Linked DNA regions of Homo sapiens. The protein of the gene in region 1 purifies or fractionates together with the protein of each later gene. This does not show direct contact. Each region holds a gene or a part of one and is shown on either strand. Other genes may lie near its edges.

Region 1 (3,754 bases):
ACCACAATTCACAATTTAACTGTGTGTGCTTATTTGTCTCCCCTACGAGAACATATGTTCCATGAAAGTAGGGGTTTTACCTATCTTGATCACATCTGTATGCCTAGTACTCAGTAGGTGCCAACATTTGGCACCTAATATTTGTTCAATGAATCTCTACCCACACCATTTTCTCTTTCCTAAATCAGAATGCACTTATCTGCCTCAATGCATGACCTCTTTGCTCCTTCTGCAAGGTCAGTTTCAAGTACTACCTCCTCCATGAGGCCTTCCAACAGTCTCTTCACTTCAAGAAATGAGCCATTTCTTCTCATAGGTCCTGGGAGCCCTACTGTTTGTCCTTTCCAAAGCACTTGGCATACTGTAACATTATTATGTAATTATCTATCCATTCCACTATACTGGGAACTTCTAGAGGTCGGAAAAGTATTTGCTTCTATATACCCAACCCAAACACACTGCCTGGCACTCAATTAAAATCCAGTGGGGAGTCAGAACAGCAAGATGATTAACACACAGGCTTTGGGCCTGAGAGCCTGGGTTTGATACCTGGCTCTAGCAATTACTGGTTGTATGACATGGGTAAGTGACTCTGATCCTCAGTTTCTTCACCTATCAAGTAGGCATGTTAATACTACCTAATCTGGTAGTTGTGAGGATTAAGATAATGTTTATAAAACATTTTGTGCAATGCCTGGCACACAGTAATCTCACAGTAAGGGTTAGGTACGAGAATATTTATTGTTTTGCTTGGGGAGGGGATTAAGTCCTGTCCCTTTTCATCTCAGACTAGTGAAGGCTACAGATTGATCTCACTAGGTTCCCAAGAATTCCTTGAAGTTGATGACTGTCTGCATTCTCTAGAGAGTCCTACACTTCAATAGCCCACTGTTGTCCTGCAACAATGTCTGATGCAAATGTTAAAAGCAAAATCAAGCATGATGGGGACAAAAAAAAGTTCCAAAATACACTTAGTCCCAGAATCCCAAAGTAGCAATATGGCCCAAGTAGAAAAACTATTGGGGGTACAAGGATATTGGAATACTGCATTTAAAGACTTAAGAAGTTACCGACAGACTTTAGAATCAGACAGACTTCAGCTGCAATCCCATCTCTGCGACCCACTATCTGTGTACCATTTGCAAGTTACTTAACCTCTCCGTGCCTTAGTTTTAAAATTAGGCTAATTGCATCAAGACAGTTAAGATAGTAGCTTTCATTAAGAAATACAGTAGCACATGTTCACAGAGCCAGGTATACAGACCCTCAGATGTAAGCTTATTTATGTCCTTTCTGAGGCCTTATAAGTTTCCCCAACTCAGCAAGCTGTACTCTAAGAGCAAAACGCCACTTAAATAGCCCTCCACAAGAATATAGCTGGATATGTCTCTACAGTTTTCAGAACTATCACAAGCAATAAAAGTTTCTGTGAAAGATAGGTGATGGCACATCACTCAGTTGTCCTGGGGCCTGGGAAAGATTTCTCAGTAGGCACCAAGGCAATCTGTTCTTAAGTTGATGCCCTAAAGGGAAGTAGGCTTGGCGCTGGCTTCTCCAAAGCTTGCCATCCTTTGAAAACCAAGCCTAAAGAAACAACCTGCCCACAAGGCAACAAAGCCTGACAGTAAACCCACCAATTCCCTTTTCTCTACACTCCTCTCCACTTCTCTCCCTTCCAGGGCAGTATGGGGGCATAACAACTCACCTCTGTGAGGCCTTGCCACATTGGTCAAGGGCTTCACCAGCCTCACCATGGTGGCCCCAATGGTGCGGTTCTCTCTAGGGTGCCCATGCGAGTCAGCTGAACGCCGGTACAACTCCAGCATGTACCGCAGTGAATGCCCTAGGAGCCGGGGCTTCCTTGGCTGTTCGCCAGGGGATTCTTCTAGCAGCTCCTCAATCAGGGGCAAAGTAGGGGCCTCAGCCAGAAGGGCAATAGAGGACTGCCCTCCTTCTGCCATTTGGGCCCTGTGTTCCATGAAAAGCACGAGTTCACAAAGAAAAAGAATTCTAAGAATACTGAGGAGGACCATCTTGAAAGGCTTAGTGTTCAACAACAGGCCCCAACACAAGCCCAAGGGACGTCACTCTGACCATTTCCTTTCATGCAGATAACTGCATCCTGGCTCCACAACCAAGGATGGGGCAAGAAAAAGAAAGGCAGGCAGGCCCTATGTTGCTTTCTCTAAGAGGATCTCCTGGACCAAAGTTGCCTCATAACTTGGCCTCTTTGCATCAAAAGAAACAGAAACAGAAGGTGGGACAAGGCAGCATGCCCCTCCCGCTCTCCCGGGCTGAGAACAAGATAGTACCTATTGAGAGGCTCAGGTAACTTAAAAGGAGAGGTCCATTTCAGGACCCACTTCCTTAACTTATCCACTAGAATGAAAAAAAGCAGCCTGATCCTACTTGCCCCTACAGCCTTAAAAGTAGTCCCTTAATCCATCCTTAAAGGGCCAGAGGCCTCCTGTTCCCATCCTACTTCCATGCCTCTAATGCAGCATTTCTCAAAATATTGTCTGCTAATAATCTGCAGTGAAACTATCTGGGGTGATTATTAAGAATGTAGACTCCTGGGTCTGAACCAGGATTCTCTGGGATGGCGTCCAGAAATCTGGCTCTTTACCAGTGCTCCAAGAAGTTCCTATGAAAACCTAAAATGTGGAAACTACTGAGTATGGCTGCTGGAGCTTGAAGAAGATGCCGTAACAGTGGTTCTCAATCTTGGCTGTAGATTGGAATCATCTGGGAAGCTTTAACTATTATGAATGCCTGGGTACCATTCTGATGTAATGGGCCTGGGTTGTAACTAGTGCATCAGGATTTTTTTAAGTTCACAAGTGATTTTAATGTGCAGCCACGTTTAAGGACTCTGACTTATAATTTTCTGGTTTACCTTGGAAGGTGTTGAGATCCTTATTGGGCTTCATTAGAGAAGCCTGAGGAAGGGGAAGAGTAATCTATGGGAGCTAACCTAGCCCAGATGGTTAATGTGAAGCAGCAGGGCTCGGCCAGTTTTAAGGCTGCCTCAGACCATTATTCTGCAGAAAGATAGTAGGTATAGTCCTGGCCGTACCGAAGTAGAAACATATGGGGATCTGGAGAGAAACTGGGGAAGCAGGTCAAGACCTGGCTCTAGGAGATGATGAGTCAGGCTTGATTTGTGGGAGGCCTTTACCTTACACCAGGAGTATCTATGGACAGACATTACTGTGGAACAGGCGTGGACTTGGTAATCAGGCAGATCTGTGTTTGAGTTGCAATTCTGTCCCTAGCTGTAATTTAACCTTTCCAAGGCAAATTTCTAGCTGTAATTTAACCCTTCCAAGACAAATTTCTTCACTTCCCTACACCTTAGTTTTCTCATCTGTAGAATGGAGATAACACGTTTTACCTCACAGGTTGTTGTGAGGAAGCAAGGAAATAATCTATGTTAATTGCACAAAGCCTAATTAGACACAAGACATAGGGTTACATGTTCAAATTTATTTGTGCTCTTCCTCTGTTTTTTTTTCTAACATGACCTTGGGCCCTGGCATGTAGTGTAAAACAAAAGGCATAGGTTTACGGGTCCTCTACATCTGGACTCAAATTTCAGCTCAAAAACTCATTAGCTGGGTTACTTTAAGCAACATTTCTCCCAGACTTAGTTTCTTCATCTATACTGCTGGCTCCTTCAGAGAGCTGTTGTGAGGGTTGTATTGTATAATATACAAGTAAGGGATATAAACAGATGATTCACAATAGGCAAAAT
Region 2 (3,754 bases), on another chromosome or scaffold:
GTCTTAATTTGCAGCTGGGTCTTTAGGCTCCTAAAACAGTGCCTACCACATAGTAGTTGCTTAACAAATACTGAGTATTCTGGTAAATAAGTACACATCTAGTATCAAATCTCTAGCTAACAATGAATTTGTATTATTTCTTTTAAAGAAAGTAAATAAATTCTTTGTAAAGGGTAGCCTGGAAAATAAAACAACAGTGTTTTTTGTGAAACACAGGCTTCCATTGGGAAATTTTTTTCTTATCTACCTTCCCTCCCTCTGCAGCAAACTCAGTGTCTCTTCATATCATTATCTTCCCCAGTTTCCTGAAGAAATATTCTAACAGAATAAAAGGAACCTTTCTACAAATGTAAACCTTATTTACAAAAGCAATTTGACATTGCTACTTCTGAAAAACAGTATACATAGACATCCTGGCTAACATGGTGAAACCCCATCTCTACTAAAAACAAAAAAATCAGCCGGGTGTGGTGGCACGCTCCTGTAGTCCCAGCTACTCGGGAGGGCGAGACAGGAGAATCGCTTGAACCCGGGAGGCGGAGGTTGCAGTGAGCCAAGATCGCGCCACTGCACTCCAGCCTGGGCGATAGAGCGAGACTCGGTCTCAAAAAAAAAAGAAGAAAAAGAAAAACAGTATACATAGAAGTGATTCTTATTTCCAGTTTTTATTTAAGAGAACACACTGTTCTTCAGACCTCCTTGTCTATAATTGCCAACCAGAGATTTGTATAAGTGTTAACTGCTTTGCAGCCTTACTACTTCAGTAGCATTTCATGAACAGAAGATTTAATTAATTCTGAGAAGTTGGGCTTACATTCTGGAAGAGGTGACTATGCATCAGTTAAATGAATTGAATTTGAGGAGAGAACAACTATTCTGCTTTCCTCATTTCAGAAGCCACTGTCACTTATTCTGTGACCTATCGTAAGACTCTTGGCCCTCATTTGTCTCTTTATTGTGTGCCTCTGAGTGTAAAAGTCTAACCTCTACTGCAAACTCCCTGATTTAAAGGCTGTGACATTTTTTTCTTAACTCTCTATTATCCCATCTTCTTTATAATGTGACAACCAAAAGAAATTTGAGTAAGAAGCCTGCCAACTTTGAGATAGGCCGTTACTGCTTCATCATGCTCTAACATGACAGGATAGGTTTCTTGAATATATTCAGTCATACTCAGGATTCCCATTCCTGAGCCCTACTTAAGTAGAATAGCAACTTCATGTTTTGTTCTCTCTTGAAAGTATCACACAATAAAAACAATGTAATTTTTTTTATACTAATATCCCTTAGGTAGCCTTTTATTGGTCAGAAATTCTTCTACTGTGTTTAAATTCCTTACTGATCTATAAAGGTCTATTCAAATCTTATTTTGTTCATTTATTTTATAAATATGTATTGAATACATATTTATAAAATAAATGAACAAAATAAGATTTGAATAGACCTTTATAGATCAGTAAGGAATTGAATACTTATTTGTATTCAATACCTATTTGTATAATTAAGGTTATAAAGGTTACACATACATTATGTCATTGGTTTGACATTGGATTAGAGTTGGCATAGAGGAGATTTAATCTAATTCACTTGGACAATTAAACAATTAAAAGGGACATATAGTCCCTTCAGTGTACTGTTCTTGGTGCTGTTGACCTAGGATCCAGTGGGAGCATTTAATCCTGTGTAGATAATAAATAAAATCTCAGGATTCAGTCTTCTCTTGCTGTTGACAGTGGGACTGAACTGTTTTCCTTATGCTTAACCTTAATATTTTCCATGTTACTATGTGGAAATGTTTCTGGGGCAGAAACATCCTAGTTCCATCTCAGTGATGGTAGTGATTTTATGCTGTTGCCTTCTTCACAATACCCTTATGTAATGTATCTTACCTTCATAAAACTTATATTCATTTATTCAGTAAACCTTCATTGAACATCCTATACTAGGCTCTGAGGATATAAAGATAAAAAGAAGTAACTCCTGCCCTCCAGGAACTCTCAATCTGGTCTGCAGGAAGACATGCAAACGACTATTACTGTAATTAGGATCATCATTATGAAGTTCATATAAGATATTCTAGAATGTGGAGGAGGGAGTTCATAATTCTGCAGATAGCCTGTTTGGAAATGTCCAGGAAAAGTTTCACCAAGGGTATAATAGTTGTATTGAGATGAGTAAACCTTTATAGCTAAAGAATTGGGCAAAAGTATCCCAAGCAGAGGAATAGCAAGTGTAATTCCTGAAAACTTGAACGAGCATACTGTACTCACCAGTTTGTAAGTTTATATTCACTTGAGTATTTAACCTAAATAAGCTCCTTGAGACCAGAAATTTACATCTGTTTTGGTCACCATTGTATTCTCAGGTTTTATCACAATGCCTGGAACATAGTATTTAATTTAAAAAAATCTTTTTACAAACAGAATTACACAAATCCTCAACAATCGTCCACATATTTTCTCTCACACAGCTGCCTCCTCACTCCCCTTTGCAGCACCTGATGTACCTCCTTAGAAACCTAGACTCCAAAGAACACTGTTTGACAACCACTGCAGTAGAACATAATATATCAAGATTTTAGGAGTGGGTTTCTTTTTTCATTTTTACATGTTTTAGAATAACATGCATAATCAAAGCTAATAATACTGTGTTTTCTTTACTCTTTTATTTGCCTCTAAAGACATCCACACATAGTGGTGAACTGATTTTTAATGCGTTTTAAATAAAAGGCATTGAAAAATATTAATAATTGTAATTACTAAAAGTATTTCTCTTTGCGATTCTCTTATCTGTGTTTCCAGACCGGTTGGAGGGTGACAGATCAGAAGGCTCTGGTCAAGAGAATGAAAATGAGGATGAGGAATAATAAACTCTTTTTGGCAAGCACTTAAATGTTCTGAAATTTGTATAAGACATTTATTATATTTTTTTCTTTACAGAGCTTTAGTGCAATTTTAAGGTTATGGTTTTTGGAGTTTTTCCCTTTTTTTGGGATAACCTAACATTGGTTTGGAATGATTGTGTGCATGAATTTGGGAGATTGTATAAAACAAAACTAGCAGAATGTTTTTAAAACTTTTTGCCGTGTATGAGGAGTGCTAGAAAATGCAAAGTGCAATATTTTCCCTAACCTTCAAATGTGGGAGCTTGGATCAATGTTGAAGAATAATTTTCATCATAGTGAAAATGTTGGTTCAAATAAATTTCTACACTTGCCATTTGCATGTTTGTTGCTTTCTAATTAAAGAAACTGGTTGTTTTAAGATACCCTGAATTTGACTTTTTATTTAATGCCTTGCTACTTTGACCCACAGTTTTCCAATCTCTCCTGTAGCATACGATGACTATTTTTCTATATTTTCTAGATTTAACAACCTTTTCCTTTTTTGCTTGTGTGGGATAGAATCACATAGAAGGACTTCCTTCATTTCTCCTTCCACGGTACAGCTGACCCTTGAGCAACCCAGGGGTTAGTGGCACCAGCCCCCCTCACAGTTGAAGATTCATGTGTAACTGTTGACTTCCCAAAAATTTGACCATTAACAGCCTGTTGATCGCAAGCCTTACTGATAGCATGGTCAATTAACACATATTTTGTATATTTTATGTGTTATATTCTATACTCTTACAATAAAGTAAGCTACAGAAAAAGTGTTATTAAGAAAATCATAAGGAAGAGAAAATATATTTACTGTTCACTAGGTGGAAATGGATCATCATAAAGGTCTTCACTGTTGAGAAGGCCGAGGAAGAA
Region 3 (3,754 bases), on another chromosome or scaffold:
AAATCAGAATTTATTCTTGATCCCCCTAAACCAAAACCCCCAGCTTGGTTTAATGGAATTTTGACTTGGGAAGACTTTGAATTAGTAAACCCACACAGAGCCAGATTTTTAAAAGAAATTAAAGACCTTGCTATCAAGAGGCGCCAAATTTTAAGCAACAAAGGTCTTTCTGAAGATGAGAAGAACACAAAATTACAGGAACTAGTGCTGAAGAATCCATCAGGTTCTGGGCCTCCACTTAGCATAGAGGATTTAGGGTAAGCATTATATGTACATTCTTCAATCCAATGCATGAATAAGTTTTAAAGCTTTTGTTTCTTTGTCGTCACTGATTTGCAATATATGAGTAAATAGTCTGTCAAAAACAGTAATATGCTGTAGGAAATATTGATGATCGACTTGAACCTTTGATTTAATATTATAAAGACAACACTCAGAATACTAGAATATTAGTTTATTAATCATCAAACCTTTAGAAGATTACCTGACTTAGCCAATGTGAATTTATATGCCTGTGTAAAATGTCCAGAGCCAACAATATTTTGACAAATTCATCTGCTAATATATGATTCACTTTGCAAAGCTCAAAAATTGGTTGGTATGTCAGCTTTATCACCAAAGGCTGTAGCAGTTGAGATGCTGCAGAACTTTTGATAAAACTCTGTTACTTTATGTACAGGTAATTATCATATCTTCAGCTGTGATTTTAGGTTAACTGCAAGGCCTTTTTTTTTTAATGTTTGCTGATAATGTTGGTAAACTGTGTTTGATAAATGGTTATATATTCAAGGTTTTTTTTAATATATATTTTTGTACACAGCGTGATTGACTTCAGTAAAGCAACAGTTTCTTCCTAAAAGTCTTACAAACATGTTGCTGTCATAATTCATTGCAAAATTTTTAGTTCATTAATTTTGTGCCATAAGTTAGAAGTAAAATATAGAAAGGTGGTTTCATGCAATCTTTGCAAAGCCAGACAGATTTGATAACAGTTGGCCTAGTAGATTTTGTCCATAGAATATTGCATTTAAAAAGTCCTCAACTTACTTCTAAGCTGGTGTACTGATTTTGTTGGAGGAGGAGAGGGGTGGGATTTATGGTTTTGATAGCCATGTTATTTTATTTAATTTTTTCTCTTGTACCCACTGATGGCAGATGATAGTAATGTTATAAAAATTAAACACCATTAGTAGTAGCTGCATGTCAGTTAATTTAATCTTTTTTGTCCTCCCAGTTTAAATTTCCAGTTTTGCCCTTCCTCAAGAATATATGGTTTTACAGCTGTGGATCTCAAGCCAAGTGGTGAAGATGAGGTAAAAAGTTTGCTTTTAATATAGTTGTAAGTTCTGACATATCCTCTTAGCAAGGCCAGTTGTACTAGACACTCCTGAAATATTCCTAGATACTGACAAATTTTCTTTTGCAGATGATAACAATGGATAATGCAGAAGAATATGTGGATTTGATGTTTGACTTTTGTATGCATACGGGTATTCAGAAACAAATGGAAGCCTTTAGAGGTAATTTTAAAGGATTTTTAGCATAATTGCTCTCCTTTCACTTTGAGACAGTTGAAATTATGGTCAAGAATTGCTGGTGGTCGGCTGGGCACGGTGGCTCACACCTGTAATCCCAGCACTTTGGGAGGCTGAGGCGGGAGGATCACCTGAGGTTGGGAGTTCGAGACCAGCCTGACCAACATAGAGAAACCCTGTCTCTACTAAAAATGCAAAATTAGCTGGGCATGGTGGCGCATACCTGTAATCCCAGCTACTGGGGAGACTGAGGCAGGGGAATTGCTTGAACCCGGGAGGTGAGGTTGCGGTGAGCCGAGATCACACCATTGCACTCCAGCCTGGGCGATGAGCAAAACTCCGCTGCACAAAAAAAAAAAAAAAAAAAAGAATTGATGGTGGTCGGGTGTGCGGGTGTGGTGGTGGCTCACACTTGTAATCTCAGCACTTTGGGAGGCTGAAGCAGGAGGATCGCTTGAGCCCAGGAGTTCCAAGACCAGCCTGGGCAACATGGCAAGACCCCATCTCTACAAAACATTTTTTAAAAAATTAGCTAGATGTGGTGGCACGTGCCTGTGGTCCCAGCTACCTGCAAGGCTGAAGTGGGAGAATAGTTTGAGCCTGGGAGGCTGAGGCTGCAGTGAGCCATGTTTGTGCCACTGCACTCCAGCCTGGGCAACAGAGGGAGACCTTGCCTCAACAAAGAAAGAAAGAAAGTGGACATAGGTTGCATACATTCTAGATTACTTGATCAGGATGAATTAACATGAAAGAATCATGATGGGAACAAAGTATATTACAAGGTAAATTACTTTTGAAAATGAGAACACAGTTTTGCCTGACTTGTATGACAGAAAGAGCTGGTGAACTCCAGACTGAGTAGTAATAAGAATTTGCATACTGACCATAGCAACTGAATGTTCTCTCTCTGTTCACGTTTGTGATGTTAAGCAGGGATTTCTAATTTAAAATACAGTTTTAATTTCAAGCTGTCTTAATTTATGCTTGTTTATTCAAACATTTATGAATGTTGAATATTCATCTTCTGTCCATTTCATCGGTAATGGGTATTTTTTTATTGTTGCATAATATATGTACATGTTTATGGGGCATTTTGATACACAGAATGTGTAATGATAAAATCAGTCTTTAGGACATCCATCATCTTGGACATTTATCATTTCTATGTGTTGGGAACATTCAAATTATTCTCTTCTAGCTTCTTTGAAATATATATTATTGTTAACTATAGTCACCCTACTATGCTAGAAAACATTAGAACTTACTCCTTTTATTTAATTGTAAGTTTGTACCCATTAAACTACCTCTCTTCATCCACCCCCACATGCAACATTCCCAGCCTCTGATACCATTCTTTTCTTTACCTTTATGAGATCAACTTTGTTGTTTTTGTTTTTTTGAGACGGAGTTTTTGCTCTTGTTTCCCAGGCTGGAGTGTGATGGCACGAACTCGGCTCACTGCAACCTCCACCTCCTGGGTTCAGGCGATTTTCCTGCTTCAGCCTCCCGAGTAGCTGGGATTATAGGCATGCACCACCACACCCGGCTAATTTTGTATTTTTAATGGAGATGGGGTTTCCCCATGTTGGTCAGGCTGGTCTCGAACTCCCACCCTCAGGTGATCTGCCCACCTCGGCCTCCCAAAGTGCTGAGATTACAGGTGTGAGCCACCTTGTCCGGCCAAGATCAACTTTTTAAGTTCCCACATATGAGTGGGAACATGTGATACTTGTCTTTCTGTGCTTGGCTTTTTTCACTTAATATAATGACCTCCAGTTCCACCCATGTTCCTACAAATGAAAAGATTTCATTCTTTTTTTTTTTTGAGACGGAGTCTCAGGCTGGAGTCCCAGGCTGGAGTGCAGTGGTGCCATCTCGGCTCACTGCAAGCTCCGCCTCCTGGATTCACGCCATTCTCCTGCCTCAGCCTCCCGAGTAGCTGGGACTACAGGCAGCCGCCACCACGCCCGGCTAATTTTTTGTATATTTAGTAGAGACGGGGTTTCACTGTGTTAGCCAGGATGGTCTCAATCTCCTGACCTCATGATCTGCCTGCCTCGGCCTCCCAAAGTGCTGGGATTACAGGCGTGAGCCACCGTGCCCAGCCCATTCTTTTTTATGGTTGCATAGTATTCCATTGTGTACATATACCACATTTTCTTTACACATTCATCCCTTGATAGATACTTAGATTGATTCTGATAATGGGTATTTTGGTT

Evidence for each region.
Region 2: the proteins of BMP15 (region 1) and DCAF6 purify together in Homo sapiens (affinity purification with mass spectrometry; 3 studies listed by BioGRID and IntAct, with this or other methods). This does not show direct contact.
Region 3: the proteins of BMP15 (region 1) and HECTD1 purify together in Homo sapiens (affinity purification with mass spectrometry; 3 studies listed by BioGRID and IntAct, with this or other methods). This does not show direct contact.

Annotation. Positions count from the first base shown.
Region 1 is NC_000023.11:50,909,063-50,912,816, reverse strand, and holds the start of BMP15 (bone morphogenetic protein 15 preproprotein), read right to left. Parts: upstream 2,083-3,754; 5' UTR 2,034-2,082; coding exon 1,706-2,033; intron 1-1,705. UniProt on the Homo sapiens protein: May be involved in follicular development. Oocyte-specific growth/differentiation factor that stimulates folliculogenesis and granulosa cell (GC) growth.
Region 2 is NC_000001.11:168,072,570-168,076,323, forward strand, and holds the end of DCAF6 (DDB1- and CUL4-associated factor 6), read left to right. Parts: intron 1-2,801; coding exon 2,802-2,866; 3' UTR 2,867-3,267; downstream 3,268-3,754. UniProt on the Homo sapiens protein: Ligand-dependent coactivator of nuclear receptors. Enhance transcriptional activity of the nuclear receptors NR3C1 and AR. May function as a substrate receptor for CUL4-DDB1 E3 ubiquitin-protein ligase complex.
Region 3 is NC_000014.9:31,103,149-31,106,902, reverse strand, and holds part of HECTD1 (E3 ubiquitin-protein ligase HECTD1), read left to right. Parts: coding exon 1-257; intron 258-1,234; coding exon 1,235-1,313; intron 1,314-1,426; coding exon 1,427-1,520; intron 1,521-3,754. UniProt on the Homo sapiens protein: E3 ubiquitin-protein ligase which accepts ubiquitin from an E2 ubiquitin-conjugating enzyme in the form of a thioester and then directly transfers the ubiquitin to targeted substrates.